Linked DNA regions of Homo sapiens: region 2 is linked to region 1. Evidence: fine-mapped expression QTL. A gene starts in region 1. The other region holds a variant in brackets. All regions are shown on one strand. Distances are between the middles of the regions. Region 1 holds the start of LINC02507 (long intergenic non-protein coding RNA 2507). Region 2 overlaps EDNRA (endothelin receptor type A).

Evidence for each region.
Region 2: its variant is fine-mapped to the expression of LINC02507 in lung (GTEx, PIP above 0.99). The same link has a PIP of 0.9 or more in ovary, prostate, tibial artery, uterus and vagina.

What each region holds. Positions count from the first base shown.
Region 1 is chr4:147,568,387-147,571,308 of GRCh38, reverse strand. It overlaps LINC02507 (long intergenic non-protein coding RNA 2507), which reads right to left and starts at 1,611. Exons shown (of 4, transcript NR_187416.1): 1 at 1,251-1,611.
Region 2 is chr4:147,541,182-147,544,103 of GRCh38, reverse strand. It overlaps EDNRA (endothelin receptor type A), which reads right to left. Exons shown (of 8, transcript NM_001957.4): 8 at 1-1,626. The coding sequence ends at 1,486. Among named protein-coding and RNA genes, the nearest start is that of LINC02507, 27 kb to the left of the region's middle. The variant C/G (reference allele first, on the strand shown) is at 1,416.

The DNA of each region.
Region 1 (2,922 bases):
AATGAGGCTGGAGACTAAAGTCTTCTGTTTGTCTACTTATTTGGGAAGATCTCTAAGTCATTCAGTGTAAACATGCTTGCCCTATGTAGCTAATTGACTCAAAGTTGACTCAGAAAACTTTAGAGCTTCATCTAAGAAGCCATAAAACATCAGCTACCACTTTAAATCATTGTATAAGTAGCTTCTTCCTTCCCTTTCCTCTTCATCCTTTTACCTTTTCTTCTGGGATCACCGGGAAGCCACAGATCGGTATTCTCAGACTTTTCCTCTCCTTTTTGGATCCAAATACTTAAAGTGCCCACAACAATCTCCTTTCTAGTCTTTCCTAAATTCATTTTGTTCTTCTCTCTACCTCTTCTCTTAGCCCTGTGTACTTACTTTGCTCTGTTAGTTGTGTTTAGCAACTGCTTCCTGAATTAAACAGAAAAGTGGGTATGTGGATTTCCAGTCGTATTCTGTGAAGCTCCTTACTGCATAATCTGACCCAGGAGGGGGAGCCTCTGGTCCTACCGGCCCTGTTTCTGCAAGAACAGTTTTTATCCATTATGTTTGTCTGAACACCCCTAATGAAATGTCATTTGAACAAAGGATTCTGTGGGTAAAGGGTTTGGAAATCACTGAACTAAAGAATGCTCTTGGCCCGGTTTACCGTTATACTTTGGCTCTGGCACATGTTAGGAGAACACTTTGACTGTTCAGTTATCCAGTGATGTAAATCATTATAAATGTGCATAATAACCATTATTATAACAAGATAATATGTATAATAACAGTTACTCTGTTGGTCCCTGAAGCCACATTTCCGTGTGGCCAAAAGGACAGAACTATGCAATTAGTTATTTGTCTTTGGAGCCTGTACTGGGTTGAATAGTGTTTCCCCAAATCCATGTCTACCAGAAACCTCAGAATGTAACTTTATTTGGAAATAGAGTCTTTGCAGATGTAATCAAGTTAAGATAAGGCCATACTGAATTAGAATGGTCCCTAATCCAATAACTGGTGCCTTAAAGGAAGATGGAAACTTGGACACAGAGACACAGACATACACAGGGAAGAAGCCATGTGAAGACAGAGGCAGAGATTGAAGTGATGGATCCATAAGCCAAAGATCACCAAGGATTGCCTGCAGCCACTACAAGCTAGGAGAGGGACATGGGATAGTTTCTCCTTCAGAACTTCCAGACAGAACCTTTCATTTATCTCTCTTACTTCATTACCTGCTTCCTGAGATCATTTCCCAAATAAATTACCTGTACTTTTACTCAAGTCTGTGTCCAAGACAGTGAGTACTGGAAGTGGCTGTCAATGAGTGGTGGCGGATACCTGCAGCCATAGCTCCTTGGGAGGCTGAGGCAGGAGGATTGCTAAGGCCCAGGAGTTGAAGGCTGTAGTGAGCTATGATCACACTACTGTGCTCCAGCCTGGGCAGCAGAGCAAGACCCTGTTTCTTAAAAACAAAGAAAGACAATCAGGTTGACATTGCTCAGTGGGACTGAATCACTCAACAGCCAGATAGCAACAAGAACCCTGGTGCTGGTGGAAGTAGCATCATAATAACTAAGAGTCTCAGAGAAAGTCTTGGTTAGGCTAATGCGGAACCCTTGGGGAAAGATTTCCCATTAGAGGAATCCTATGATGAGCAAGAATGGACCAGCTCTAGAAACTTTGCCATGTTTAGTCTTTGACCAGGACTATGTGGCCTTTGAGTGAATGCTGCGAAAGACCTCAAAGTTGAGGCAGCTGGAGGCTGTCAGATAACTACATTCCTCATGGCAATTTCTTCCTTTAAAGGAGATCTGAGTGGCACACCCCAACGGCTGGATGCCTAAGGCTCCGTTCTGTATGGAACTGGGTTCTATAGTGTCAATTGTGATGATGGAATTCCAGAATAGCAGAGGTCAGGGTAGTAACATTTAACCATCAGTATCATGGTGGATGTAATTATCATGCCAGGTAGAAAGACCAGAGTTGCATCTGGGGCACTGAGTCCTGCACATATCTGTGGCAGTGTCTAATAGACTATATTTTCCTTGGGGCAAATGAGATAAAGAGTGAGCTAGCACATTGCTTGGCTTATACAATCAGAAAAAAAAAAATCAAGAGTTGCTGTGAAGAAAACTGATATCAGCTACCATAGTGGAAACCTGCAATCTCTGGTCCAGTTTCCAGCTTAGTTAATTCTTTTGATCAGAGACCACCAATTGGAGAGGCTGTGTCTGCCTAATGAAAGACCCCTCAATGTCACTGCAAGCATATACAATATATCAATCCTAACTCAAAGGAAACTGTAGCTGTTTAACAGAGTAATTGTATGCTATAGAAAGAGGAAGACTTTTGAGAGCTTTTGGACATAGGATCTGAACTGATGCTGATATCAGGGGATCTGAAAATGCTTTCTTGGCTCCATGATTACAGAGGAGACATGTGGAGTCTTAGCCTAGATCTATGTTACAATATGTACAATGGGTCCAGAGACCCAACCTGTGATCATTTCCCCAGTCCTCTTGGGCATAACTGGGATTGATATTCTTTGCAATTGGAAGAATGCTCATATTGTTTCACTGACCTGTGAGTAAGAACCCTTATGGTAGGAAGAGCCAATTGGTTAAAGCAACTAGTTGGCTTCTGCTATTCTAAAATCCTATCATCCCCGAGATTGTTTCTCCAAGCCAAGACAATAAATCAGAGCAATATTATATCCTGGGTGGAATTGCAGAAATTAATACCATTTTTCAATATTTAAAGAATGCAGGAGTGGTGGTTCCTATCATATTCCCATTCAGTTTACTGCTATCACCCCTGAAAAAAATCAGATGGATCAAGATGGGTGATGATGAACTGAGCCCAGTGGTAGCCCCCAAAGCAGTATCTTATTAGAGCATAGTATCACAGGTCCAGGTCCAGCCTCTGGCACTTGGTATG
Region 2 (2,922 bases), 27 kb after region 1:
AATCCATACATACCATCACACACATGCATATATCACACACACAAATATATTCCACAGAGACAGTCTAGAAAAATGGGCTAAAAGAAATTTACAATTGTTTATATATATACACACACACACTAGTAAAAGATTTTCTGCTGTACTCACAGTCTGTAAACATCTGGGAAAATGCCCAGCAAAAGTCACTGTGGGCCCTTTGAAATGGTGACAATGTGGGAGGGAGATGTTGGGGTGGGGAGTTAGGTTCATACTGAAAACCCCAAGAAGTGAAGAATCGTAAGTTCTGGTGGCATTTGTGGGTAATTATTTTTCACTGACATGATAAACTCATCTGGCCACTTCAAAATTATGTTTCCTATATGGAAAAGGGAATGATCAAAAAAGACTTACTGCCAGTTAACATTTTAAGAAAAATTAAGAGAATAGGAGGTGATATGTATATACATATATATGTCACTATTACAAATACCTGAATGAAAATTTCTGAATCATCTGAAAAATTCGATCTTTTTCTCTTAGGTGTGTTTTAGACTTCTATATACAGTGCACTGAAAGTCTCAGGCAGAGTTAAATGACACATACATTAACATTTTGGTACTTGACATTGATTTTTCATACAAAATTTACATGAAAAACAGATTGAACTTGTGAAAAAGAACTATCTGATTGAAGCATTACTTTTGAATTTAACATACAAAACATGTTCAAGGTCCCTTGTAATAAAACACCATTTAAAAAATAAAATACAGTTCTTAAAAAATTCTTTGAGTAACATCTATTAAACTGCCAAATGTGTCATCAGACTGTGCTTTAAGGGCCTGTAGTATTTGTTGTAGCTTTAGAATTTGTGTTTTAAAAAAATAAACAGTGACGTGGAAAATACTAATCTAATTGCTCACCTGAATACTATTTTTGTCTTTTTTTTTTCAAACTATGTGTAAATAAGTTCAAATAATCATGTTAGGCTATTATGCAGTTAAAAAATACTGGCACCAAATGACATTTCAAATAAAAGTGACTTGAGCCCATATTGTGTTTGGCTGAAGGACAAAAAAATCACTTAAAAAAAGTAGAAAATCTTGTCGTTAATCTCTAAAGTTTCATGGTGACCAGTTCCCATTGAACATTCACCAGAACTGCCATAAAAGCTAGCCATGTACTTGAAAGCTCTATTTTCATGCAAAAGTAGTAAATATCCTTCTGGTTTCATTTAACAGTCTTCATTCTCCCCCAGCTCCCACCATTTTTTAGTGCTGAATACAACACGCAGAATATGTAAATTAGATCAATTAAAGAAGTACGATTCGTAGATGTTGTGGGTGGATAAACCAGTCTACCCTTGCGGTTTTGGAAAGCATTTCTTCTTGGGTGTGGGAGTGAATTAAGGAAGAAGGATCAGAGAAGAGATTCCCGGA[C/G]TCACAGTTGCCTTGTGATTTTTTTCTCCGAGAGGATTATGGGAGTACCGAGGAGTGCTTCTAAGGGTGGTCAGTTCATGCTGTCCTTATGGCTGCTCCGGTCTGTGTTGTGGTTGTTTTGATCGTGGTTCTTCCACTGGATGCTTGTTCCGTTCATGGGGACCGAGGTCATCAGACTTTTGGACTGGTAACAGCAGCAGCAGAGGCATGACTGGGGGAAGGAACAGACTCGAAGTAAGGCGAGCCTACCAGCCCATTCCCGGCCAAACACAGCGGCCCTGGGCCATGCTAATGAGGGGCAAATGTCCATTCGCATTCGAGGGAAGTGAACCTTGACAGTAACCTAGAGTGGAGAGCCTGTTATCACCAGGCAGGAGTTACACTGTCCATTCCAGTGCAGAGAAATAGAACCCTTGTTTCTCATTTTAATTTTATTACCAAGTGCAAGAGAAAGGGAAGGCACTGTAGGTGAGAGGAAGGGCTCTCCACAGCTTGGGGCAGGCACGGGTAGGGCTGGGCTGGTGGGGGGGTCCTAGCGTTTCTTCAGTGTGCACCACCTGTGTGGCTCTCCGCACCAGGTACCTTATCAGATCCTCACAACAGCCTTGGATGTTCTCCCATTTTATGCTATTCCCCCATTTTATGAATGAGGACAGTGAGGTCCAGAGAGGATAATGAGAGTTAGAACTGGAATTAGAACCCAGGACTCTCTAGATTTGGGCTCTTTCTCTTGGATATACTGCCTTTTTAGGAAGATTCATCAAAAAGTGGGGTTAATTTCTGATAATTTTTACCTTGATTTTCCCTCCCCCAATGAATATGTAAATTAATGAGTAAGTAATAATTAATTTCACCTTATATAATGTACTAATTTTAACCTGCATGTTAGTCAATCCATTTTGGGCTGAGTGTTTTGTGACTGGCAAACATTTCCAAGAAGACCTCAGAAATACGGCCCCAAACTTCCATACCGAGTTTCATCTGTTTGTGTGATTCCTTGGTTAATATATGTCTGCCTCTGTTTAGACTGTAAGTTCCATGCAGGTCGTTACTGTGTTTTTCCTCTCTACTCTGTCCCTAATAGTAATCAACTCATATTGAGCACTTATTATTTCAAGCATTTTACATATATTACCCTCCTTATGAGAGAGATACTGTGATCATCCAATTTTATAGGTGAGGAAACTGAAAAAGCAAGAGAGGCACTACCTGGGGTAGATAGTTAGCAAGTGCAGGGCTGTAATGTCCATCGAGGCTCTTTGCTTCCAGAGCCTGCATTCTTGACCTCTACCGCACTCTGCCTCATATGTACCATAAGCTAAAGTTAAACAGCCTGGTCCAAGATAACAAAATCCAGTGAGGATTAAGCCTATGCTAAAATGATTTCAGGAACCAGAAAATTACACATCAATAAGACAGGCTTAGAGCTTCTGAAGGACATGGGTGGCTGAGCTGGCTGGAGGTTTGAAAGCAGAAGGAAACTGATTTTGAATAAAATTATATTTGT